6 separate regions of the Homo sapiens genome follow, and regions 2, 3, 4, 5 and 6 are each reported to be linked to region 1. Evidence: microRNA targets listed by miRTarBase, many of them from high-throughput screens and not tested one by one. Region 1 holds a microRNA gene; each other region holds the end of a gene's coding sequence.
The links. The annotated mature microRNA hsa-miR-6499-3p reads AGCAGUGUUUGUUUUGCCCACA and lies in region 1 at 1,340-1,361, shown strand. An mRNA with a match to its seed (bases 2 to 7 or 8) in the 3' UTR can be bound and repressed. Matches are read on the target gene's strand: a 7mer-m8 pairs with bases 2 to 8, a 7mer-A1 pairs with bases 2 to 7 and ends in A, and an 8mer does both.

Region 2: miRTarBase lists ASPA as a target of hsa-miR-6499-3p. Seed matches in the 3' UTR shown: 7mer-A1 at 2,034-2,040 and 7mer-A1 at 698-704.
Region 3: miRTarBase lists KBTBD12 as a target of hsa-miR-6499-3p. Seed matches in the 3' UTR shown: 7mer-A1 at 774-780 and 7mer-A1 at 2,966-2,972.
Region 4: the mRNA of MOAP1 is a reported target of hsa-miR-6499-3p. Seed matches in the 3' UTR shown: 7mer-m8 at 982-988, 7mer-A1 at 1,093-1,099 and 7mer-m8 at 1,305-1,311.
Region 5: the mRNA of SPATS2L is a reported target of hsa-miR-6499-3p. Seed matches in the 3' UTR shown: 7mer-A1 at 1,459-1,465.
Region 6: the mRNA of SPIB is a reported target of hsa-miR-6499-3p. Seed matches in the 3' UTR shown: 7mer-A1 at 2,225-2,231, 7mer-A1 at 1,931-1,937 and 7mer-A1 at 1,191-1,197.

The regions. Positions count from the first base shown.
Region 1 is chr5:151,519,318-151,523,448 of GRCh38, reverse strand. It overlaps MIR6499 (microRNA 6499), which reads left to right and starts at 1,301; the gene lies at 1,301-1,362. FAT2 (FAT atypical cadherin 2) reads left to right here. Exons shown (of 24, transcript NM_001447.3): 19 at 1,363-2,173. It also overlaps a transcript of SLC36A1 not described here. RefSeq lists enhancers at 1,296-1,465, 3,151-3,320.
Region 2 is chr17:3,498,485-3,502,615 of GRCh38, reverse strand. It overlaps ASPA (aspartoacylase), which reads right to left. Exons shown (of 6, transcript NM_000049.4): 6 at 1-3,725. The coding sequence ends at 3,528. It also overlaps a transcript of SPATA22 not described here. Among named protein-coding and RNA genes, the nearest start is that of ASPA, 25 kb to the right of the region's middle.
Region 3 is chr3:127,983,597-127,987,596 of GRCh38, forward strand. KBTBD12 (kelch repeat and BTB domain containing 12) reads left to right here. Exons shown (of 6, transcript NM_207335.4): 6 at 501-4,000. The coding sequence ends at 682. Among named protein-coding and RNA genes, the nearest start is that of SEC61A1, 67 kb to the right of the region's middle.
Region 4 is chr14:93,179,967-93,183,966 of GRCh38, reverse strand. MOAP1 (modulator of apoptosis 1) reads left to right here. Exons shown (of 3, transcript NM_022151.5): 3 at 1-1,768. The coding sequence ends at 780. Among named protein-coding and RNA genes, the nearest start is that of MOAP1, 2.9 kb to the left of the region's middle.
Region 5 is chr2:200,477,519-200,481,649 of GRCh38, forward strand. It overlaps SPATS2L (spermatogenesis associated serine rich 2 like), which reads left to right. Exons shown (of 13, transcript NM_001100423.2): 13 at 118-4,131. The coding sequence ends at 513. LOC101927741 (a long non-coding RNA gene) reads right to left here and starts at 455. Exons shown (of 7, transcript XR_007088047.1): 1 at 27-455.
Region 6 is chr19:50,427,767-50,431,897 of GRCh38, reverse strand. It overlaps SPIB (Spi-B transcription factor), which reads right to left. Exons shown (of 6, transcript NM_003121.5): 6 at 584-3,860. The coding sequence ends at 3,562. Among named protein-coding and RNA genes, the nearest start is that of MYBPC2, 3.1 kb to the left of the region's middle. RefSeq lists enhancers at 3,250-3,539, 3,095-3,667, 3,668-4,131.

The DNA.
Region 1 (4,131 bases):
TTACTTCACCTCTTTGAGCCTCAGTTATATTTTTTGTAGGATGGGTGACTTGATAGTACCTATCTCATAAGAAGGATAAACTAGGATAATGTATTTACAGCATTATCATAGTTTATCTATGATAATGACTAGCATTGTACTCAGTTAATGTTAGCTATGTATTATATATAATCGGTAGTAGTAGTATTGTTGTAACTAATGTTAGCTATACATTATAATTAACAGTAGTGTTAATTATTATTGTTGCTATTAATATCTCTTCGGTGTTATGCATGACTTCCAGCAGTAGGTGTAATCTTATCAACTTTCTTGTACATTAAAAGTGTTGGAGTGCAGGTGAACAAGATATTACTACAGGGAAAATTGTGGAGACCCTCGTTGACAGCTGAGGAAGTGATAACATCACTGAGGAGAAGAAGGCAAGCCTGTCCTTTCTAAGTCAGGCAGGAAGTTGCAGGGATGTGTGGTGAAACATGAAAGGAAAATGCGTTTATGATTTACATTCTTTTCCCTACTTAAGTGAGGTCCTGTCACCCTCACGGCTTTTCACAGTTCTGACATTAACTGCAACCCTGCGCGTGCCAGCCCATCAGTGAGGTCAGGCCTGCTTCCCTGCCCACTTGCTCCAGCACCAGTGACCCCGTCTGTGCTGTTGAACACACCGCCTTCATTCCTACCCCAGGACCTTACACTTGCTGCTCCCTCTGTCTGTCGCCTCTTCTTCTCATCCCTCAGGACTCAAATGTCACTCCACAGAGACTCCTTCTCTTCTACCTGATCAAAGTTAGGTCTCTGTTTATTTCCTTCCCAGCATTTTATCCAAGTTATTTGGTAACTTATTTATTGTCTCTTTTCTCCTGGCCACAGCAGAAGACTTCGTTGACTGACTAGAAGGACAAATCCCGACTCCCACTCCAATCGCATAGCAAAAGGGAATCCCAAGGGGAATTTTCGTAGGCTGAGCAGGGTGCATGGTGCATCAGAATTGCTGAGACATCTGAGGGCGCCCTTGAGGACAGGGACAGAATGAGAAACTTCATGAGGAAGTTAGCCCAAGTCTATGGCTGGAGAGATTTAGGAAGAGGCTCAGAGAGATGTCACATGAGGAAACTGCATTGTTTTACTGCATGGTATAGGATGTAACTCCCTCCTTCAATCTCTACAAAACCTTCAGAAAATCTTTCTTTTCTGTCAGTGCTTTTGGAGTTAGGTTTTTTTTTTCTAAATGCAACAATGCGCTGAGCCAGCCCTCAAGTTGGGCGTGGGGCAGAGAAACGTAGCTCCACAAGGAGGCCCAGCCTCAGTCGGGCGCAAGAGCACTGCAGTTCTGTTGGGTGACAGCAGTGTTTGTTTTGCCCACAGGCGTCAGACAGTGGCATCCCTCCCCTCTCGTCTTTGACGTCTGTCCGTGTCCATGTCACAGAGCAGAGCCACTATGCACCTTCTGCTCTCCCACTGGAGATCTTCATCACTGTTGGAGAGGATGAGTTCCAGGGTGGCATGGTGGGTAAGATCCATGCCACAGACCGAGACCCCCAGGACACGCTGACCTATAGCCTGGCAGAAGAGGAGACCCTGGGCAGGCACTTCTCAGTGGGTGCGCCTGATGGCAAGATTATCGCCGCCCAGGGCCTGCCTCGTGGCCACTACTCGTTCAACGTCACGGTCAGCGATGGGACCTTCACCACGACTGCTGGGGTCCATGTGTACGTGTGGCATGTGGGGCAGGAGGCTCTGCAGCAGGCCATGTGGATGGGCTTCTACCAGCTCACCCCCGAGGAGCTGGTGAGTGACCACTGGCGGAACCTGCAGAGGTTCCTCAGCCATAAGCTGGACATCAAACGGGCTAACATTCACTTGGCCAGCCTCCAGCCTGCAGAGGCCGTGGCTGGTGTGGATGTGCTCCTGGTCTTTGAGGGGCATTCTGGAACCTTCTACGAGTTTCAGGAGCTAGCATCCATCATCACTCACTCAGCCAAGGAGATGGAGCATTCAGTGGGGGTTCAGATGCGGTCAGCTATGCCCATGGTGCCCTGCCAGGGGCCAACCTGCCAGGGTCAAATCTGCCATAACACAGTGCATCTGGACCCCAAGGTTGGGCCCACGTACAGCACCGCCAGGCTCAGCATCCTAACCCCGCGGCACCACCTGCAGAGGAGCTGCTCCTGCAATGGTAAGTACTACATCTTCCCTAGGGACGAGCAGCACTGCTGGGCTCAGCCCGCCTGACTCTAAGCATGGAGATTCCACTGAGGCTCTGTGGGAGAGTTCAGGGAAGTTTTAATAAGCCCAAAGGCCACCAATCACCATAAGACGGCTAGTGGCCTCACAAAATCTAGTTATGGAATAATACCCAATTCTCAGCTCCCTTTCGAGATTTAGAAAATAACAGTAAGACTACAATATGTGGTTTAACATCATGGCTAAGAGCATAGGCTGTGGCTTCAGTCTTCATGGGTTAAAATCCCAGCTCTACCCCTTACTAACCAGGCGACTTTAGGAAAATTAACCTCTCTGTGCCTTTGAGCTGGGCTGCTGTAGGAATTACATCAGTACTATGTATCAAGTGCTTGCTTAGAACAGTGCCTGACATATAGAAAGTGGTCAATACATGTGAGTTACTAATACTGCTACTATTATTACCATAGTCTGGTGGTTATAAGCTCAAGGCTTAGACTCAGACAGCTCAGGTTCAAACCCTAGCTCCATCAGTCACTAGCTGTGTAACTTTGGGTGTATTGTTAAAACCCTCTGAGCTTTTTAGTTTCCCATCTATAAAATAGTCAAAATAAATACATCTGCCTCCTGGAGTTGGGTTCGGGGGGGAAATTACGTAAGAGTTATAAAAGCACTTAACCCATGGCTGGCCCACAATAAGCCCCAGATCAACGGTGACTGTCATTCCCGTGGTAGCAGTTGCTATAGGGAGCCTGCTGTACGCCACACTCTGTGTAGATGTCACCTAAACTAATCGGCACCACAGCCCTACCAAGCAGGGTCATTAGCCCCATCTGCAGTTGGAACTGAGATATGAGATTTAGTTTGCCTGAAATTGTACAGCTTCCAATGAAGGCCTCGTTATTCAAATATCTGTGTGTCCCACTCTAAAGCCTGAACTCTTCACTAAGCTCCTCAGGCACTCCAAGACTCACCCAGCATCCCTGGCATTAAGGCCAAGGGAGCAGCTCAGGAGCCTTGGCTAAAGGAAAGTGACATGACCTTCAGCTCACCAGCGCTCCTGCCTGGCCTGGCCTGACCTGCCCTTTATGGGTCCAGCTGCCTGGCATTCGGGATATCATTTCTCAGAAGATTTGTGGACTTTGTCCAGGGACCACTCGATTTAGGCTGGGTGGGCTTCTCTCTGTTGGGGAGAGGATTTCCTTCTCTGTGTTTCTTGCCCCAGGGCCTGCTTCAGGGAAAGCCAAGAAGGCTGAAGGGTCTCTCTCAGCCACCTGGCATCAGACAGCAGGGGTTCTAAAATTCAAGATTTTGCAAAGTCTACTGGAGAGCGTGATTTTAAAGAGACATGCTCCTGGGTGTCACCTCCAGAGGTTTTAATTTAGAAGGTTCTGAGTGAGTCCTAGAATTGGCATTTAATTCTGAAGCAGCAGGTGCAAGGGCTTGCATTGAAGAAATACTAGATAAACTCATGGATCACCAGAATCAGTTGAAAAGAGGTTTTTTATTTTTTAACATTTTAGTGAAATATAAAACATACAGGAAACCAATTCATGTATCATAAGTACACACCTCAAATAATTTTTATAAAGCAAATATATCTGTGTAGCCAACGCCCAGATCAAGGAAAGAATATGACCACCATCTCAGAAGCCTCCCTTGGGCCCCCCTTCCAGTTGTTACACCCATGATGGTAAGATTTTTAAAATACATATTTCCACGTGCCACCCAGAACTACTGAATCAGATTCTCCGAGAGAACTTAGGATTCTGTGTCATAAAGATTCTCCAGCTGATCCTGATATCCAGCCGGGGTGGGAATTTCTGATCTAGATCATCTTCAATATCCCATCCAATAAGTACCTACTACAATGGAATTGCCAGTGTCAGGGAATTTTGGACTTGTTTGGATTTTTGTTTTTGTTTTTGAGATGAAGTCTCGCTCTGTCACTCA
Region 2 (4,131 bases), not on the chromosome of region 1:
ATAGTCATATGTCATCTTTACCATTAAGCCCTTGTTTCTCTTTCATATTTCATCTACAAAACAGCACTTAAAAGTCTCCTCTGGATTTCGCAACGAATGCTGAAGTTTATAGACTGGACGCTTAGTATATTACCATTAACCCAAATATAAAAATTGAAAAAAATAGCAATTCTGCACAACTCATTTCTACTAGCACTTATACATTACAGGCATACCTCAGAGATATTTCAGCCTTGGCTCCAGATCACCACAATAAAACAAACATTATAACAGATGAGCCACACATATTTTTTGATTTTCCAGTACGTGTAAAAGTTATGCTCACACTATATGTAGTATGTTAAATGTGTAATAGCATTATATCTAAAACATGTACATTCCTTCATTAAAAATGCTTTATTGCTAAAAAAGCTAACCATCATTTGAGCTTTCAGCAATTCATGATCTTTTTGCTGGTGGAGGGCCTTGCCTTGATGATGGCTGCCTGATCAGGGTGGTTGGGCACTGAGGGTTGGGATGGCCGTGACAATTTCTTAAAATAAAACAACAAGTTCGCTGCATTGATTGACTCTTCCTTTCGTGAAAGATTTCTCTGTAGCATGAAATGCTGTTTAATAACATTTTATTCACAGTAGAACTCATTTTTTTTTTTTTTTTTTTTTTGAGATGGAGGCTTGCTGTGTCCACCAGGCTGGAGTGCAGTGGCGCAGTCTTGGCTTACTGCAACCTCTGCCTCCTGGGTTCAAGTGATCCTTCTGCCTCAGCCTCCCAAGTAGCTGGGACTACAGGCACGTGCCACCACGCCTGGCTAATATGTTGGTATTTTTAGTAGAGAGGGGGTTTCACCATGTTGGCCAGGCTGGTCTCGAACTCCTTACCTCAGGTGCTCTGTCTGCCTTGGCCTCCCAAAGTGCTAGGACGACAGGCATGAGCCACTTCTCCCAGCCGAACTCATTTCAAAATAGGAGTCAATCCTCTTAAACCCTGCTGCTGCTTTATCAACTATGTTTACGTAATATTCTAAATCCTTTGTCATTTCAACAGTGTTCACAGCATCTGCAACAAGAGTTGATTGCAGCCAAGAAACCACTTTTTTGCTCATTTATAAGAAGCGACTCCTCATCCATTCAAGTGTGATCATGAGATTGCAGCAGTTCAGTTACATCTTCAGGCTCCACTTCTCATTCTCTTGCTGTACATCTGCATGACTTCCTTTACTCAAGTCTCGAATTCCTCAGAGTCATCCAAGAGGGTTGGAATTCACTTTTTCCAAACTCCTGTTAATGTTGATATTTTGATCTCCTCCCACGGATCCTGAATGTTCTTAATGGCATCTGGAATGCTGAATCCTTTCCAGAGGTTTTCTGTTTACTTTGCCCAGCTCCATCAGAGGAATCACTATCTATGGCAGCTATAGCCTTATGAAATGATTTTTTTCTTCCTTTCTTTTTTTTCTTTTTTCTCCCCTCCCCCAGCCTGAAATGTATTTCTTAAATAGTTAGATTTGAAAGTCACAATGACGCCTTGATCCATGGGCTTCGGCTGGATGTCGTGGTAGCAGGCGCGAAAACAATGCTAATCTCTTCGCACATCTCCAGCAGAGCTCTTGGGTAACATGGTGTATTGTCAATCAGCAGTAGTATTTTGAAAGGAATTTTTTTTTTTCCCAAGCAGTAGGTCTCAACAGTGGGCTTAAAATATACAGTAAACCATGCCGCAAACAGATGTGCTGCCAGCGAGGCTTTGTTGTTCCATTTATAGAGCTCAGACACAGCAGGTTTAGCATCAGTCTTCAGAGTCCTACGATTTTTGGGCCGGGCGTGGTGGCTCATGCCTGTAATCCCAGCACTTTGGGAGGCCGAGGCAGGCGGATCATGAGGTCAGGAGATCGAGACCATCCTGGCTAGCAGAGTGAAACCCCATCTCTACTAAAAAAATGCAAAAAATTAGCCGGGCGTGGTGGCAGGCACCTGTAATCTCAGCTACTGGGGAGGCTGAGGCAGGAGAATGGCATGAACCTGGGAGGCGGAGCTTGCAGTGAGCCGAGATTGCGCCACTGCACTCCAGCCTGGACGACAGAGCAAGACTCCGTCTCAAAAAAAAAACAAAAAACAAGAGTTTTAGGATTTTTGAAACAGTTAATGAGCTTTGGCTTTAACCCAAAGTCACCAGCTGTGTTAGCTCTTAAGAGAGTCAGGCTGTCCTTTGAAGCTTTGAAGCTAGGCATTCATTTCTCCCCTCTAGCTAGGAAAGTCCTAGATAGCATCTTCTTCCAATAGAAGGCTGTTTCAACTACACTGAAGATCCGTTGTTTAGTGTAGCCATCTTTGTCAATGATTTTAGCTACATCTTCTGGATAACTTGCTACAGCTTCCACATCAGCAACTTGCTGGTTCGCTTTCCACTTGTAGGTTTTAGAGCTGTCTTCTTTCCTTAAACCTTGTGAACCAACCTCTCCCAGCTTCCTGCAGCTTCCTCACCTCTCTCAGCCTTCACAGAATTGAAGAGAGTTAGGGCCTTGCTGTGGGTCATGCTTTGGCTTAATGTGTGGCTGGTTTGATCTTCTATCCAGACCACTAAAACTGTCTCCATATCAGCAATAAGGTTGTTTTGCTTTCTTATCATTTGTGTGTGTGCACTGGAGTAGAATTTTTAATTTTCTTCAAGATCCTTTTCTTTGAATTCACAACTTGGCTAACCAGTGCAAGAGGCCTAGCTTTCAGCCTGTCTCAGCTTTTGACATGCCTTCCTTACTAAGCTTAATTTCTAGAAGTATGACCCTTTCTTTCACTTGAACACACAGAGTCTGCTGTAGACTTATTAATTATTGTGTCTCAAGGAACAGGGAGGCCAGAGGACAGGGAGAGAGACAAGGAAATGGCCGGTCAGTAGAGCAGTTAGAACTCACACAACATTCACTAAGTTCGCAGTCTCACATGGGCACGATTCATGGTGCCCCAAAACACTTAACAACAGTAACATCAAAGGCCACTGATCACAGATCACCATAGCAGATATAATAAATAAATCATAAAAAAGCTTGAAATATTATCAAAGGGTGACACAGAGACAAGGAGTGAGCACATGCTGTTGGAAACATGGCACTGTTAGACTTTCTAGACACAGGGTTGCCAAAAACCTTCAATTTGGAAAAAAAGTACAAGTACAGTATCCGTGAAGTGTAGTAAGGCAAAGCACAATAAAACAAATAACTTTATATATATCTATTTCAATTTTATATTCTGAATACAAAGGCTGTTTATTAAGAATGTTGAGCTACCCAAGTATCATGTATAATAAACTATATAGAAATAGGAAACACTTCTTTGAATAAGCTACATACATAAAATATGATATCTTTAAAGATATATTAATTAATTTAAGAAATGTGCTTAGATGCCTACCGAATAAGGCACTGTGCTAGGAGCTATGTATGCAGTTGAATAAGGCACAACCCTACTCTTAAGGAGCTTACAGACTAGCAGAATTTGTAAGACACCGTGTAAGATGTAAGCTGGAAGTGATTTCTAATGTAAACAGCAGCGAATACTTTTTGCATTGAGCGTTAGTTTAGTTGTCTTTGCAAAAGCTTCTTTCTTTTCGTAATATGCGGCCTCATTCACAAACACGGGGTACACGGTACAGTCTCCGCCCAGTGGGATCGTCTTCCCATCAAGAGTTAAAAACATGGGATCCCCAGGATGCAGTGGTTTCCAGTCTTGATCCTCTCAGGAAACAATCAAAATAAATATATTATATTTGGTTTTTCTCCTCTAAAAATTTATGTCAGACTCTAGACAACTAACAAATTACAGTATTCTGTTGTTTTAAAAGAGATACTTGAGCGAGGCATTGAGATGCAGGCAAGTGATCTGACTGCGCTGACATTGGGTCGTGAATTTTGGCAGTAGTTTTAAGAGTTCCCCTTTGCATTTGTATAATTGAAACGTGTAATTAACATTTGCTTCAGCCAGGTGCAGTGGCTCCTTGCCTGTAATCCCAGCACTTGGGGAGGCCAATGTGGGTGGATCGCTTGAGCCTAGGAGTTCAAAACCAGCCTGGGCAACACAGAGATCCTATCTCTAGAAAAAATACGAAAAATTAGCTGGGTGTGGTGGTGCATGCCTGTAG
Region 3 (4,000 bases), not on the chromosome of region 1:
ACAAAAATTAGCCAGGCATGGTGGCATGTGCCTGTAATCCCAGCTACTCAGGAGGGTGAGGCGGGAGAATTGCTTGAACCCGGGAGGCGGAGGTTGCAGTGAGCGAGATTGCACCAGTGCACTCCAGCCTGGGTGACAGAGCAAGACTCCGTCTCAAAAAAAAAACAGTCTGGCTTTCTTGATTTCTCTCTTTTACTCCTTCCCTGTCCCAGTGACCTCTTTGCAAATGCCCACTCCCCTTCCATTTTCTGCCATGAGTTGAAACAGCCAAGGCTCCCACCAGATGCAGATCCCCAGTCTTGAACTCTCCAGCCACCAGAATCGTGAGCCAAGTAAATGTCTTTTCTTGATAAACTACCCAGTCCTGGGTATTCTGTTAACAGTAACAGCAAGTGGACTAAGACATTGCCTTTTGGAGGAAGTTACTCAGTATGGTGCTGATGGCCTCTGAATTTAATACCCACATGAGATTTTTGTCTTCCCACTTTGCTGTTTTTCAGATCGCCATGAGGTTATCTCCAAAGAAATATTGGAACTGGACCCATGGGAAAACCAGTGGAATGTTGTAGCCATCAACGTCCTCATGCATGACAGCTATGATGTCTGCCTAGTAGCCAGGATGAATCCCCGAGACCTCATCCCCCCGCCTTCAGATTTGGTGGAAGAAGGCAATGAGCACTAAGGTGACCTTGCTGGAGGACCTCCTGCTGTTCTGCAAACAAGGCCTTCAGAACGGAGAGGGCCCACAGCATCTCTGTCATGCCAGTCATGTGCACTGCATGCGTAGTGGCCTGTGTGTGAAGAAGCAGTGTGTGCTGGGCACTGGGTGGGGAGCATGGGGAGTCTCCCTTCAGGGACTTCCCAGCCTGATAGGGTAAATAAGACACTACAAAGAAGAGGTGATGACGGCCACAGGAGGGGCACAGGGCCACAGGAGAGCAGCAGAGGGAGGGTCTCACTCTGCTGGGGACCCATGAACAGCACTGCCAAGGAGCAGACCTTTTATTGGGTCCCCAAAAGGATGAGGAGGAAGTGGTCCCATGGGTGCAGTCAATGATGAGTTCATGGAAACAGCCAAGCAAGGGCCCAGAGACAGAAAGCTCGTGCCTGTCTGCAGTATCCTGGCTGGGCCAGATTGCCTGGGGCACAGGGTTTGTGGTCAAGGCTGGAAAAGTAGGTTGTAGCTAGATGACCAACGCCTGAAAGAATGAGGAGTTGGACCTGGTCTGTAAGCCAGGGAATTGTCTCAAAATCGTGCATTAAGGGAGACTTCTCTCTGTGCTCTGTTCCAGCTTCAGTCTTATAAACACTGACCATTCTCCTTCAGAATCCCCTTCTACTGAAGCAACGCCACCCAGCAGCAGGGCTAGCTGTACTACCAGCCCCTAACAACCAAGGCACTCAAGCCAGACCACAGTGGCCAAGAATCCTGCCCTGGGCTGACTCTGTCCGGGACAGGGATGTGGGGTTCTGCAGCCTGGTCCACTCCGGGGCTGGCAGGGAGTGTCCTGGAGTGGGCTGACCCAGGCTGCCTTTGCCCACCTCTCAGACACATACAACCATCTGCAGGGTAGTCCTGGCTGAACAGGACTCGCCCAAGCCACCCAAGCCAGGGACAGAGAAGGCTCTGGCTGAGGACAGGGGAAGAAGCATCTCCTCCAGCTGCTGCCAACCCCATGGCCCGGCCTTTGCAATAAAGATGGAGCCACCCACTTCAGCCCACAATTGAGCATAATCAGAAGACAGTCACTCCCAAAATATATGTTAGAAATAACATTTAAATGACACATGGGAAGTCCGTCTATCTTACTTCCCGTCTCTAATTCTGGAAGCACAGTGGATTCAATGAGGGCATCTTCATAGCTCTTCTTCAGCAACTTCTCCAAAGAGTTTCACATTGCACAAGGCTCTTTTGGAAGCAGGAGTGGTCAGTAAATTCAGAGGGAGACAAACCCTAAGTAGAGACAGCTTTCTTTGGTGCTGAGCTGTGTGATTGTGATGACCGCTAGCCTGTGCCCCTAGGTTCCAGCTGCCCACCAGGCAGGACAGGCAGGTCTTGCCAAAACTGGAGCCTGTTGGAAACCTATTTCTGCCACCAAGGAGAGGGACCAGGAGACCCAGCGTAGGTTGGCCCCAAGTAGGCTCAACTCGGGAGGGTGGGGGTCCCGCCTTTCTCTTCGCACTTGTGCCCCAAGTGCACTCACAGTACCTGGCATGTGGGTGACCTCTTGGGTGGCCGGCATGGGGCAGTGTTTCTCAATCAGAGGGCCTGGGCCCCGAGCACGTCCAGGAATCTGAGTTAAAGTGAGCTTACTCTTTCCCCAGTGGATGATCATGATCTGTGCATTCTTTTTCTTGCTACAAAGATGTTCCTCCTAGCTGCTGTGTTGGCTGTCGGCGGCCAGGGTTGAGGACGGCCTCCACAGGGCCTCCACTTCCCTCCATTCCTCTTCACATAGTCACTCCACCTGCTCCACCTGCTTGAAAAGTCCAGAAAGCTGCCGCGTCTCCCTGGCTCAAGGAGGCCTTGTTGGCATGTCATGGCACATCTCCTAGATGTTTTGGGTTCAAGATCTGGGTTCCAGCCCCCGCTCTGCTACTTAGCTAACCATGTGAACTTGGGCAAGATGACCTTTCTAAAGCCTCATTTCCCTCATATGCAGAGTGGGAAGGAAAATATTAATACATACTTTATAGGGTTGGTATGAGGATTAAGTGCTGAGCAAAGTGCCTGTGAAATCCTGAAATAATAAGCATGTTTTAGCTGCCATTATTATCATCACTGTCATTATCATTGCAGTCAGCACTTCCCAAAGCAAGGTGCCCAAAACAGACTCAGTGCTTTAGGGAAGTGGGGCAGATGTGCATATGGCTTGTGACGGTTCTTTCTTTTTTTTTTTTTTTTTGAGACGGAGTCTCTCTCTCTCGCCAGGCTGGAGTGCAGTGCAGTGGCACGATCTCAGCCCACTGCAACCTCCGCCTCCCAGGTTCAAGTGATTCTCCTGCCTCAGCCTCCCAAGTAGCTGGGATTACAGGCGCCCACCACCACACCCAGCTAATTTTTGTATTTTTAGTAGAGACGGGGTTTCACCATGTTGGCCAGGATGGTCTCAATCTCTTGACCTCGTGATCTGCCCGCCTCGGCCTCCCAAAGTGCTGGGATTACAGGCATGAGCCCCTGCACCTGGCTGAGATGGTTCTTAATTTCCCATACCCTGTTGCTTGGCTCCTCCAGTTGGCGGCTGAGAGTTAAGCAAGGGTTTACTCGGATCTGAGGCCCCCGATGCCCTCAATGGACACATTCAGGACCCTGTGGCAGCTCAGCAGAGGCACCTGAGGGTCACGCTAGGTGAGACCATCGCCCGCCTGTGGGAGGCAAGATAAGTGGGTAAACATCATTCCTGTCTAATGCGAGGTCTGGGCAGTGTCCCAGTGGAACTTTCCAGAGAGTGCCAAGGGAGGACCGAGAAGGGGCATGACCTCTGCTGGAGCCAGGAGGGCAGTGACCAGGAGCTGGCTTAGCACTGAAGGGAAGCAGGCATCAAGGGCAGGATTTCTCAAACTTCTTCTGAGGAATCCCCGAGGTCGAAACCGGTGCTTCACAGATTTCAGATGTCTGATCTTGATTTTTCTTTGATTCCATACAACAGATTGCTTGCCTGGGTTAGTGCTTATTTTAAGTTCTTGGTGCTTCTTGTCTGACTTCTGTATTTGCAATTAAAAACAACATGACCCTCCCCACCTGCAGCCAGATATCGTTAGAAATTCAACTTCGAAATATATTCCTATCACTCCTGTTTTCACTTTAATAGAAGGCTGTTGCAGTACTGCATGATGGGCTCTTATAAAACTTCTACTATCTGCTAATTCTTATCTTTGTGACAGGATTGTTTGACACTGAGCAAGGAAACACAATAAGGAAGTAATTTGGATGCTAGGCTGGCAGAAGCCTGCAGCTGTCAACCACAGCCTGCCCCAGTGTGTTCAACACGGTGGCATT
Region 4 (4,000 bases), not on the chromosome of region 1:
TTTAAGCCCCCTGACCCAGATAATACATTTTTAAGCAGATTAAATGAATTTTTAGCGGGAGAGGGCATGACAGTGGGTGAGTTGAGCAGAGCTCTTGGACATGAAAATGGCTCCTTAGACCCAGAGCAGGGCATGATCCCGGAAATGTGGGCCCCTATGTTGGCACAGGCATTAGAGGCTCTTCAGCCTGCCCTGCAATGCTTGAAGTATAAAAAGCTGAGAGTGTTCTCGGGCAGGGAGTCTCCAGAACCAGGAGAAGAAGAATTTGGACGCTGGATGTTTCATACTACTCAGATGATAAAGGCGTGGCAGGTGCCAGATGTAGAGAAGAGAAGGCGATTGCTAGAGAGCCTTCGAGGCCCAGCACTTGATGTTATTCGTGTCCTCAAGATAAACAATCCTTTAATTACTGTCGATGAATGTCTGCAGGCTCTTGAGGAGGTATTTGGGGTTACAGATAATCCTAGGGAGTTGCAGGTCAAATATCTAACCACTTACCAGAAGGATGAGGAAAAGTTGTCGGCTTATGTACTAAGGCTGGAGCCTTTGTTACAGAAGCTGGTACAGAGAGGAGCAATTGAGAGAGATGCTGTGAATCAGGCCCGCCTAGACCAAGTCATTGCTGGGGCAGTCCACAAAACAATTCGCAGAGAGCTTAATCTGCCAGAGGATGGCCCAGCCCCTGGTTTCTTGCAGTTATTGGTACTAATAAAGGATTATGAGGCAGCTGAGGAGGAGGAGGCCCTTCTCCAGGCAATATTGGAAGGTAATTTCACCTGAGTCTCAGGGAACCACGAAGGGATATGGCAATGAGTAGAGCATGAAGGTAGAACAGTCTATATACTCTTGTGACACATACAATCCCTACCTTGTGCTGCCAAGTAACTCATTTTTGTGCAATTCTCAGTATAAGCCCTTTGTCGTTTCTGTGCCTATTTAAAGTCTCCTAAAGGTGTAATTGACTAGGAAGGATGTAGTTCTACACTGCCATTTACCTATTTAAATTCATCCTTGTGAATATCTTTGTTGTTGTTGTTGAGACAGAGTCTCGCTCTGTCACCCAGGCTGGAGTGCAGTGGCGTGATCTTGGCTCACTGCATCCTCCGCCTTCCAGGTTTAAGCTATTCTCCTGCCTCAGTTGCCCGAGTAGCTGGGACTACAGGCATGTGCCACCACGCCCAGCTAAGTTTTGCATTATCAGTAGAGACGGGGTTTCACCATGTTGGCCAGGCTAGTTTCGAACTCCTGACCTCAAGTGATCCACCTGCTTCGGCCTCTGAAAGTGCTGGGATTACAGGCGTGAGACACTGCGCCCAGCCTCATCCCTGTGAATTTCTTATTGTACACAAGTTCTTTCACTATCTGTGTGCAGTGCTCTGAGGGGACAGACAAGGCTTGGGTGTATATGCCAACCAGATCTCATTGAAGTATCAGCTTGTTTGGTACTAGGTGCAAGTGTAGCATGTCACATGTGACCATGTTGGATCATTGACAATTTTTAGGTATGTACTGACCTACATTTATGATGAAGATCCTGAGCGGAGGTTAAGATATTAAGTTATTTTCCATATGAATCAGAATTATATTGATTCTGTGCAATCAAAACAAAAGGCAGAATAGAATGCTGAGATTGGTTAAGTTTGCAATGACCATCTTGAACCACAGATTTCTGCTATGTGTCATCAAAACATCTAGTTCTGAGTAACATTTTCACGATTGTTATAAAATTATAGGTGTGAACTTCTAAAATAAAGGAATGCTAATAAAATGACTTTGTCTGTTTTGTTTATATCACGGTTCCAAGAGAGATTTCATTTGAATAAAGAGTTCCCAAAGCATGAATCTGCAAACCACTGAACCTACACAGACTTAGTTCCTTGGACTCTTTCCTCTTGGTGCTCAGGGGTAGGAAATTGTTTTCTAAGTGAAGGGACCTTCTACCGAAGCAGTAAAACAATGGGATGAAACAAGACAGTGCACAAATTAGTGCGAGTAGTGCAGATGTATCAGTGTGTCAAATTTGGAAGGAGAAGGAAAGAAATGAACATTGCATGCTGCTGCTTGGAAGATTGGACTAAAAGTTTCTCCATGTACTTTCCCATTTAATCCTCTTGAAAAAAGGTTGAGCAGTATAATCTTAGCACTTTGAGAGGCTGAGGCAGGAAGATCGCTTGAACCCAGGAGTTCGAGACCAGCCTGGGCAACATAGTAAGTACAAAACATTTTTAAAAACTAGCCAGGCATGGTGGTGTGCGCCTGCAGACCCTGCTACTCAGGAGGCTGAAGCTGGAGGACTGCCTGAGGCCAGGAAGTCAAGGCTGCAGCAAGCCATGATCATACCACTGCACTCCAACCGGGTGACAGAGCAAGACCCTGTCTAAAAAAAAATAATAATTAATTTAAAAAATTCCTGCGGTATAGGAAAACTCAGTTTCACACTTGTGGAAATGGGCACAAAAGGTTAGAAATTTGGTCAAGGGCTGGGCGCAGTGGCTCATGCCTGTAATCCCTGCACTTTGGGAGGCCGAGGCGGGCGGATCACGAGGTCAGGAGATAGAGACCATCCTGGCTAACGGTGAAACCCCGTCTCTACTGAAAACACAAAAAATTAGCTGGGCGTGGTGGCGGGTGCCTGTAGTCCCAGCTACTCAGGAGGCTGAGGCAAAAGAATCACTTGAACCCAGGAGGCGGAGGTTACAGTGAGCCAAGATAGTGCCACTGCACTCCAGCCTGGGCAAAGCGAGACTCCGTCTCAAAAAAAAAAAAAAAAAAGAAATTTGGTCAAGGTGAAACATCCTTGGGCCAGAATTCTATCCTCTGTAGTAAGTGTAGTGAGCGATTAGGCCAGAATTCTTGTCTTTCTGCAAGGCCCATGTTCTTTCTACTGCCAAGAAAGAGAAACAATCATCAGGGTATCTATACCGAATAGCCTCACAAGGGAGGCAGGGCAGGCATTGGCTCCATTTCATAAGTGTCCATCTTATGTGCATTGGAGGGGAGTACAGTTGACCCTTGAACAACTTGGGGCTTAGGGGAGCCAGCCCACTGCACAATCTGCACATAACTTTTGATTCCTCAAAAACTTTACTATTACTGACAGGAGGCCTTACCAATAACAGAAAGTTGGTTAACATATTTTGTATGTTATTTGTATTATATACTATATTAAAGTAAGCTAAAGAAAAAATGTTCTTAAGAAAATTATATGGCCATATGCAGTGGTTCACACCTGCAATCCCAGCACTTTGGGAGGTCAAGGCGGGTGGATCACTTGAGTTCAGCAGTTTGAGACCAACCTGGCCAACATGGTGAAACCCCATCTGTACTAAAAATACAAAAATTAGCTGGGTATGGTGGCATGCACCTGTAATCCCAGCTACTTGGGAGGCTGAGGCAGGAGAAACGCTTGAACCTGGGAGGCGGAGGTTGCAGTGAGCTGAGATGGCACCACTGCACTCCAGCCTGGGCAACAGAGCGAGACTGTGTCTCAAAAAAAAGGAAGCAAATCATAAGATAAACTATATTTACAATTCATTAAAGAAGTGGATCATCATAAAGGCCTTCATCCTGGTTGTCATCTTCACATTGAGCAGGCTGAGGGGGAAAGGGAGGGTTGGTCTTGCTGTCTCAGTGGTGGCAGAGACGGAAGAAAATCTGTGGATAAGTGGACCTGTGTAGTTCAAGCTCCTGTTGCTCAAGAGTCAGCTGCACGTTATTCTGAATCAGAGTCCTACTGCAAATTAAACACTTAGCAGTGGAGAATATGAGACTCTATAAGACCTGGGCAGGTGGCATGGGTTATCTTTTACCTAAAAAAAAAAAAAAAAAAAAAATGAAGCATGGTTGACAATTGCTGAAAGGTAGGATAAAGCCTTTCATAAAAGTACCCAAATTTGGGATGTACACCCTGGTTTTAGATTCAAAGGCATAGTATAATGTTTGTGTTATGACTAAATGTCATGATTAAGTTCCCGTAAGTTCTTCTACGATGGAAAGAGAA
Region 5 (4,131 bases), not on the chromosome of region 1:
AAAAAAAAAAAAAAAAAAAAGCTTACCTGTGGCTTAGAGATTTGGTTTTCCTGATGTCTACTGGTGTCATCAGTGGCTTGCTGGCATCTGATACTTATCTCTTTTCTTTTTTGGTAGAATGGATCTTCTAACCAAAGACGGAGATTTAATCCACAGTATCATAACAACAGGCTAAATGGGCCTGCCAAGTCGCAGGGCAGTGGGAATGAAGCCGAGCCACTGGGAAAGGGCAACAGCCGCCACGAACACAGAAGACAGCCGCACAACGGCTTCCGGCCCAAAAACAAAGGCGGTGCCAAAAATCAAGAGGCTTCCTTGGGGATGAAGACCCCCGAGGCCCCGGCCCATTCTGAAAAGCCCCGGCGAAGGCAGCACGCTGCAGACACCTCGGAGGCCAGGCCCTTCCGGGGTAGTGTCGGTAGGGTTTCACAGTGCAATCTCTGCCCCACGAGAATAGAAGTTTCCACAGATGCAGCAGTTCTCTCAGTCCCGGCTGTGACGTTGGTGGCCTGAGCTAGGAGGAAAAAGAGCAGTTTTCACTCAGTTTTGGTTCCCTGCCCGAGGTGCTGACCCAATTCGCTGCCAAAAGAGTGTCAATCAGAATATACAAATCCCGTATGGTTGTGTCATCCTCTCTTAATCATTTTTACTAATTCTAATAATCAGCTCTAGCTTGCTTCATAATTTTCATGGCTTTGCTTGATCTGTTGATGCTTTCTCTCATCAAGACTTTGCAGCATTTTAGCCAGGCAGTATTTACTCATTATTAGGAAAATCAAGATGTGGCTGAAGATCAGAGGCTCAGTTAGCAACCTGTGTTGTAGCAGTGATGTCAGTCCATTGATTGTCTTTAGAGAGTTAATGTTACAAAAAAGAATTCTTAATAATCAGACAAACATGATCTGCTGAGGACACATGCGCTTTTGTAGAATTTAACATCTGGTGTTTTTCTGAAAAAATATATATACATATATTGCTTTATTTGAAACAAATTAAAATATGCTGCATTTGACACCTGGCTAGTTTCTTTTATTGATACCCACCTAGTTATTGAATGTACTGTTTAGTGCTTTCAAAAAAAACTTTAGAGACTAGAGGTTGTGGTGCAAAGCTGTGTACAATAAATACTGTTTCTGTTGAGACAAGTACTCTTTCAGGAAAATATATATATGCCCTTTCAATTAGATTACACAAATAGATGGATATGCACCCTGATCATCTTAGACACACCATGTGGCAGTTGGGCAGTTGGAAACATTGGTTGCAAGTACTACAAACCTCAGCTGAGCCTAGCTTCAACAATAAGAATTTATTGGTTCAGTGAGTGAAAAGTCCAGTTGGTCCAATTTGATCAGGATTTCAGCTCCCATCTCTTTTTTTTTTTTCTTTTTTCTTTTTCTTTTTTTGAGACAGTCTTGCTTTGTCACCCAGGTGGAGTGCAATGGCATGATCTCGGCTCACTGCAACCTCCGCCTCCTGGGTTCAAGCCATTCTCCTGCCCGGCCTTCCGAGTAGCTGGGATTACAGGCATGTGCCACCACGCCCTGCTAATTTTTATATTATTAGTACAGACAGGATTTCACCATGTTGTCCAGGCTGGTCTCAAACCCCTGACCTCAGGTGATCCACCTGCTTTGGCCTCCGAAACTGCCGGAATTACAGGCATGAGCCACCGTACCCGGCCAGCTCCCATCTCTTAATTATCTTAGCTCTCCTTTCCTCCTTGGGTTGACATTGCATTCAGAATTGTGGCAAAGGGCCACCATGCTCTTAAGACTCAAGTCTATTTTCCACACTGTCCAGAGGAGAGAAGTTATCCTAGTAGCTTCTACACAGAGCAAGTGTCTTTCTCAGAAATCCCAGCAAAGGTCTTGCATACCATTGCTGGTAGGCCTGTCTCTTAAACCAATCATGAAAGGGGGGAGAGAAGTGAATGGGATGAACTAATTTGCATAGACTAATTAGAGCCCACCCCTGGAGCCTGGGTGTGGCCATCTTCCCAGAGTTCCTGAGCTAGATGGAGAAGGGGTACTTCTCAGAAAGGGAAAATGGATACCCAATGGCCCAAACCCAAAATAGCCCCAGTTCCCCTAACTTTGACTACAGGGCAGTCCAGTTTGGGTGCCGCTTCCGTTGCACTCACATGTCCTACATATCTGTTGACTACTCACAAGTGCAAATGCTTATTCTCAACTCAACATTAACATTTTTTCTGGCAACCCAGGTTCACTGGTTCTCTTCCACAGAGCGGCCCTGAGCAGCTGAGCCTGCAAGCCACGCAAGCATCTGTTTCTTCTTTTGCCAAGTACAGGAGGATGTTTGCTCTCTCTGTAGAGAGCTTTCTGAGGTCTCTGGGTGTACCCAGAGATTTAATAGAAATTCTTAACGTTAAGTCACATTCCAGGAAGGAAGGAAGAGTTGTTCGTTCAAATAAGAAAGATAAATGTTCGGCACTGTAGGCCCTGTTTACCCCATCTGAGGCCCTGAATTCATATATTACAAGACGGAAGGATTTTGCACAGTTTTTTATGTAGCAAGATTTTGCTCACCACTGAAAAATGTCAGTGTAAATGTGACCGCTTTAAAGATGAGTCAAGTAATTCTTGGAACAGGGAAAAAAATGAATTTGCCAGGTCAGGAGTTCACCTGCCTTTGTCAGAGTTGAACCCAACCACTCTTGACCTCGACTCACTCCCTTAGGGTTAAGAAAGCCCAAACACATTCCTGAGCACAGAGCAAACACTCCCATGTCACTGAAAAGAAACAAAAGAATGCTAAAAAGTGCTCAGACCTGATCACATTTTTTCCAATATTTTTTCCTTTTTTTTTTTTTTTTTGAGACAGGGTCTTGCTCTATCACCTAGGCTGGAGTGCATGTTTTTGAGACAGGGTCTTGCTCTATCACCTAGGCTGGAGTGCATGATCATGGCTCACTATAGCCTTGAACTCCTGGGCTCAAGCCATCCTCAGCCTCCCAAGTTGCGAGGACTACAGGTGTGCACCACAACGTCCCAGCTACTTTTTAAATTTTTAGTAGAAACGAGGTCTCACTATGGTGCCCAGACTGGTCTCGAACTCCGGAGCTCAAGTGATCTTCCTGCTTTGGCCTCCCAAAGTGTTAGAATTACAGGCATGAGCCACCTCGCCTGGCTGGTTTTTGCCTTTCTTATAGACCCTGGGCATGTAAGCATTTATTAGTTTGCATTTTTGAAACAGTAATTTCAATATTTTAGTGCCAATGTCAGGCCGCTTAAACACTGTATTACATATCTTCATCTGTCTGGTGGAACTATTGGTGTGATCCTAGAGAACTGAGTCCTATTCTGCCATTCATTTAAAGTGTTTTAAACTCTAATCTCTCTACTTAATGCACAGTAGTCAGATTATTCTCTTAAACATTTGCCTAGTAGAGGTTAAAATAGTTTAATCCTTATGAAGATGGAATAACTTCAAACTCACATTGTGGCACTTAGATCTTCCACCAAGACTTCATCCGTGAAATCCACACCTCCCTGTTGGGTTCCCAATTACATTCCAAATTTACATTTCTTTTGAGAATCTCTGCATACTCCAGCTCTGTCCTGTTGATCCTATTCTAGAAGTGCTTAATGCAGCAAGACACAGAAAGTTAAACGCAAATTGCTGCAAAATTCACCCTCAGTGGAGGACTAGAAACACAACATGTCCAATTTAAAGCTCAGTTCACAAGCAGTTCAATTCTGCTGGCATCAGAAAAGGAGATTCTAATTAAACATTCTTAGGGAAGGACATCAAATGAGGTTAATGGGAAACGTTACCAGATTAAAAGCAGTTTTTTGACAAAGTAACAGATTTGGAAATTCTGACTCTCTGAAAGCCTTGATTTGAACCTCAAACTTGATTTCACCATGAGAAGTGGGGATCAAGGGCCTGCGCAGTTCTTTTCCTAAATCGATTCGGTGCTCCCCACCCCGACGCAGGCACAGGTCCGCAACCAGATAGGGAGATGCCTGAATTTCAGGCTACCTTTGACAAAGCTTTCTTCCTCCCTCCCTCCCTTTGCACGCTGCATCCCACGCTGCCTGCTTAAAGCGCCCTCATGTGTCTACAGATGGTAAAACGTTTATTTCTCAACAGACATTCCAGTGATAG
Region 6 (4,131 bases), not on the chromosome of region 1:
GAGGAAAACAAGTCCCTCCGCTTTTTTTTCCTGTTCATCTTCCCCCTCCTCCTTTTCCAAAACCCCCTACGAGCCGGAAATTTCTCCGCCTCCGGGGAGCGTCCAGCCAATCCGGCGTCAGTTCCATGTGATGTCACGGGTTGCCAGGCAGACTGCCACTGCGCTCCCGCGAGCCCCGCTAAGTTGGGGAGGGGCCCAGGCCTGCAGTGCCGCGGCCACCTGAAGCCTCGCGTCCCTCGCTGCCAGCCCGAGGGCTCAATTCAGAGGGAAGGGGACAGACACCCAGACGGAAGGGGAAGCGGGGAGGAGGTGGAGAACTTCAGTTGGCAGGAATAGAGGAAGACATAAACGGAACCCTCTGTGCCTGCGCGTCAAGCCTCTTATTTCTCGGCATTAAGGTTCAGATAGGTTTTGCTGTATGGTGTCTTTGTGATTTGTTTGTTTGTTTTTGAGACAGGGTCTCGCCGTGTCTGGAGTGCAGGGGCACGATCACGGCTCACTGCAGCCTCAACTTCCTGTGCTCAAGTGACCCTCCCACCTCAGTAGTTCGGAGTAGCTGGAATTACAGGCATACGCCACCACACCCCGCTAATTTTTTATTTTTTTTGTAGACGGGTGGGAAGGGGATCTCACTATCTTGCCCAGGCTGGTTTCAAACTCCTGTACTCAAGCGATCCTCCTGCCTTGGCCCCCCAAAGTGTTGGGATTACAGAGCCACCGCGCCAGCATATAATTCTCTCTTTGAACTCCTCTCATCATCACCCGTGATGTCACGGTGTCTCTGAGAGCCAGCGGCCTCAGTGGAGGGGCAGGATTGCAGTCCCTGACAAAAGGTCCCAGGAGGTTTGTCTACGTCGATGCATCTTATTTTATTCCACATTTAGGGTGACAATGATAGCTTTTGTAAAAAGTACCTTCCCCGTTGCAGGGGGCCCTGGGGAGGACGTTTTACCTGCCCTTCCTCCCTCCCCCTTCCCACTCATTCTCTTAAGGGCAGGTCCCAGCCTGGGCTCTGCCATCAGCTGCTGTGTGCCTCCACATGGACTTCTCGTGTCTCTAGGTCATTGGCATTCCTTCCTCCTCCTCCTCCTGGGAGTGGGGTGGATTTCAGGCGGTGTCAAAGGCTCAACGGGGCTGCAACAGTTTTTTTTTTTTGAGACGGAGTTTCGCTCTTGTCGCCCAGGCTGGTGTGCAGTGGTGTGATCTCAGCTCACTACAACCTCCGCCTCCCAGGTTCAAGCGATTCTCCTGCCTCAGCCTCCCAAGTAGCTGGGAGTACAGGCACATGCCACCACGCCCAGCTAATTTTGTATTTTTAGTAGAGAAGGGGCTTCACTATGTTGGTCAGGCTGGTCTTGAACTCCTACCTCAGGTGATCCACCTGCATCGGCCTCCCAAAGTGCTGGGATTACAGGCGTGAGCCACCGCACTGGGCTGGAAAGTCTTTTTGAGATCTTCCTCCTCCTTCTCTCCCTTTTTCACAGAAGGGACAAACTAAGGTTGGGAAGCAGCAAGTCATGCACCCTAGATCCACCTGCCCACCCAGGCTCAAGGACCTCTGGCCTCTTGGCCCGCAGCCTTTGACTCCCTGGGGGTCCCAACCAGGGCTCCATAGTCCACCCAGGCTTCAGTTCCAGCTGGGTTTATACAGTGGTCTAAAGCCAACAGGCTTGAGAAGCTGCTAGGGTGAGATAGCCAGGGATGGCAGCGACTGGGGCAGATTGGAGAACAAATGCCTCATTAGGAAAGGCTACTGTCCTGTTCCAGCTCCCCACCCCCCACCGAAAACTGGCCGACTCTCTCCAGACCGTCCAAAGTTTTAAGTGAAGGCAGAAATCTGGATTATGCAAAGTCTCCCTATTTTGAATGGTCTGCTGTTTTTGTTGTTTTTATTTTCAGACGGAGTCTCGCTCTGTCCCCCAGGCTGGAGTGCAGTGGCACAATCTAGGCTCACTGCAACCTCTGCCTCCCACGTTCAAGCGATTCTCTTGCCTCAGCCTCCCGAGTAGCTGGGACTACAGGCACGTGCCACCACGCCCAGCTAATTTCTGTATTTTTAGTAGAGACAGGGTTTCACCATGTTGGCCAGGATGGTCTCGATCTCTCGACCTCGTGATCCGCCTGCCTCGGCCTCCCAAAGTGCTGGGACAACAGGCATGAGCCACCGTGCCCGGCCTTGTTTTTGTTTTTAAGACGGTGTCTCACTCTGTCGCCCAGGCTGGAGTGCAGTGGCACGATTACAGCTCACTACAGCCTCCTACTTCCTGGGCTCAAGAGATCCTCCCACCTCAGCCTCCTGAGCAGCTGGGACCACAGGTGTTCACCCCCACGCTCGGCTAATTGTTTTTGTTATGTTTTGTAGAGACGAGGTCTCATTATGTTGCCCAGGCTGGTCTTGAATGCCTGGGTTCAAGCCATTCCCCCTGCCTCGCCTCCCAAAGTGCTGGGATTACAGGTGTGAGCCATTGCCCAGCTGATGGCCTGCTGTTAATGTGGATCCCTCACACCTCCACCACCAAGTGCTACAGTGCACTAAAGAGACCACCACCAGCGACCGGGGCCTCGGTTGGGGGGCAGGGGGGTGACGACCTTGAGACTTCTGGTTAGAAATGACATGGGTGGGGAGCTGCCATGATCACCCAAAATCAGTCGCGTGGCCAGAGTGGTCTTCAGCATGGCCATAGGGAGTGGCACTAGGAAGGGTAGGATCCCCATGAGAACTCAGTCTTTGTGGGGTCCCTGAAAGGGCATATCAGATGGAGAGCCTAGGAGGTCTCAGATGTGATTGGAGGATCCCAGATATAACAAGGGTGTCCCTGACAGGGCCCAGACATGACACATTTCACTGACTCCCCATCCTCCACCCCAGACCTCTCAAGAGTGATTTCAGACATGACAAAAGGATCTTGGAGGAGCCCTAGATGTGATTGGGGAACTCCAGACACATAAAAAGGGGCAGCAGAATAGTTCCAGAGAATTGGGGGATCTCAAAAATGAGGGGACAGATGTGACAACACAGCCATAGATGGGCGAAGAGATCTGAGATGATAACAGCTCCCAGAGGGCCCCAGACATAACTAGGAAATCTCAGATCTGACAAGAGGGAACCTTGGACAGGGCTCAGGGTTGCCAGCAGGGCCCCCACCCCAGATGAGATTCAGGGTTTACAGACACACAGCGATCTTAAAAACGTCCCAGGCCTCACTGGGGAATCAGATATCACAAGAAAATCCCAGAGAAGCTCTTGGGATTCTGGAAGAACTGCTACCCTGCCTCCCCGAGTATAGTGGTCCATAGGTCCTGTCACCCAAAACATGAGGATCCCAGGGAGTCTGTACATGACAAAGAAATCCCAGAGGACCCCAGGCACAAGTGGGGAATCCCAGACAGGCCCGGGCTGGGCTTGGGGATTATGGCAGGGCAGCACTCCCCTTACCCCAAAAGGTGGGGATGCGTAAGTCCTATCACCTAGAGTGTGGGGACGCCCTTTTTCTTCCAGGGGGATCCTGGCTGGGACGTGAGGTCCCCCAGCGGCTCCGCAGGTGGGAGCCTCGGGTGTGCTCAGGCCCGGCGGACTGCAGGCAGCAGCGCGCTGTCGAACTGGTAGGTGAGCTTGCGCTTGACCTTGCGGATCTCGCCGGTCTTGGCGTAGTTTCGGAGGGCGCGCGCCAGCTTCTGGTAGGTCATGCGCTTGCGGTTCCCCTTCTGCTGGCCCCAGCGGCGCGCCAGGAGTTCCTTGTGCTTGGAGGAGAACTGGAAGACGCCGGCGCCTGGCTCCACCCACCACACGCACTCACGCATGTCCCCGCGCGTCAGTAGCCCCAGCAGGAACTGGTACAGGCGCAGCTTCTTGCGAGTCCCTGCGGTGGGGTCGGGGGCACGCGTTAGGTGAGGGGTCCCTAAGGCCCCGCCTTCCCCATCCACCCTCCTCCGAGACTTCCACCCCGGCCTCCATCTCCTGGATCTGAAAAGTGGGGTGAGGGAAGTGGCTGTTACATACACCTGGCTCTGCGCCCCTCACCACGGGGGGGGGGGGGGGCAAGCCACTCCCCCTGCCCGAAGCTGTCAGCCCCAGGCCCCCTCCGCGTTCTGTGCTTTAATTTTCGAGATTTACATCTGTCCTGCCTTCCG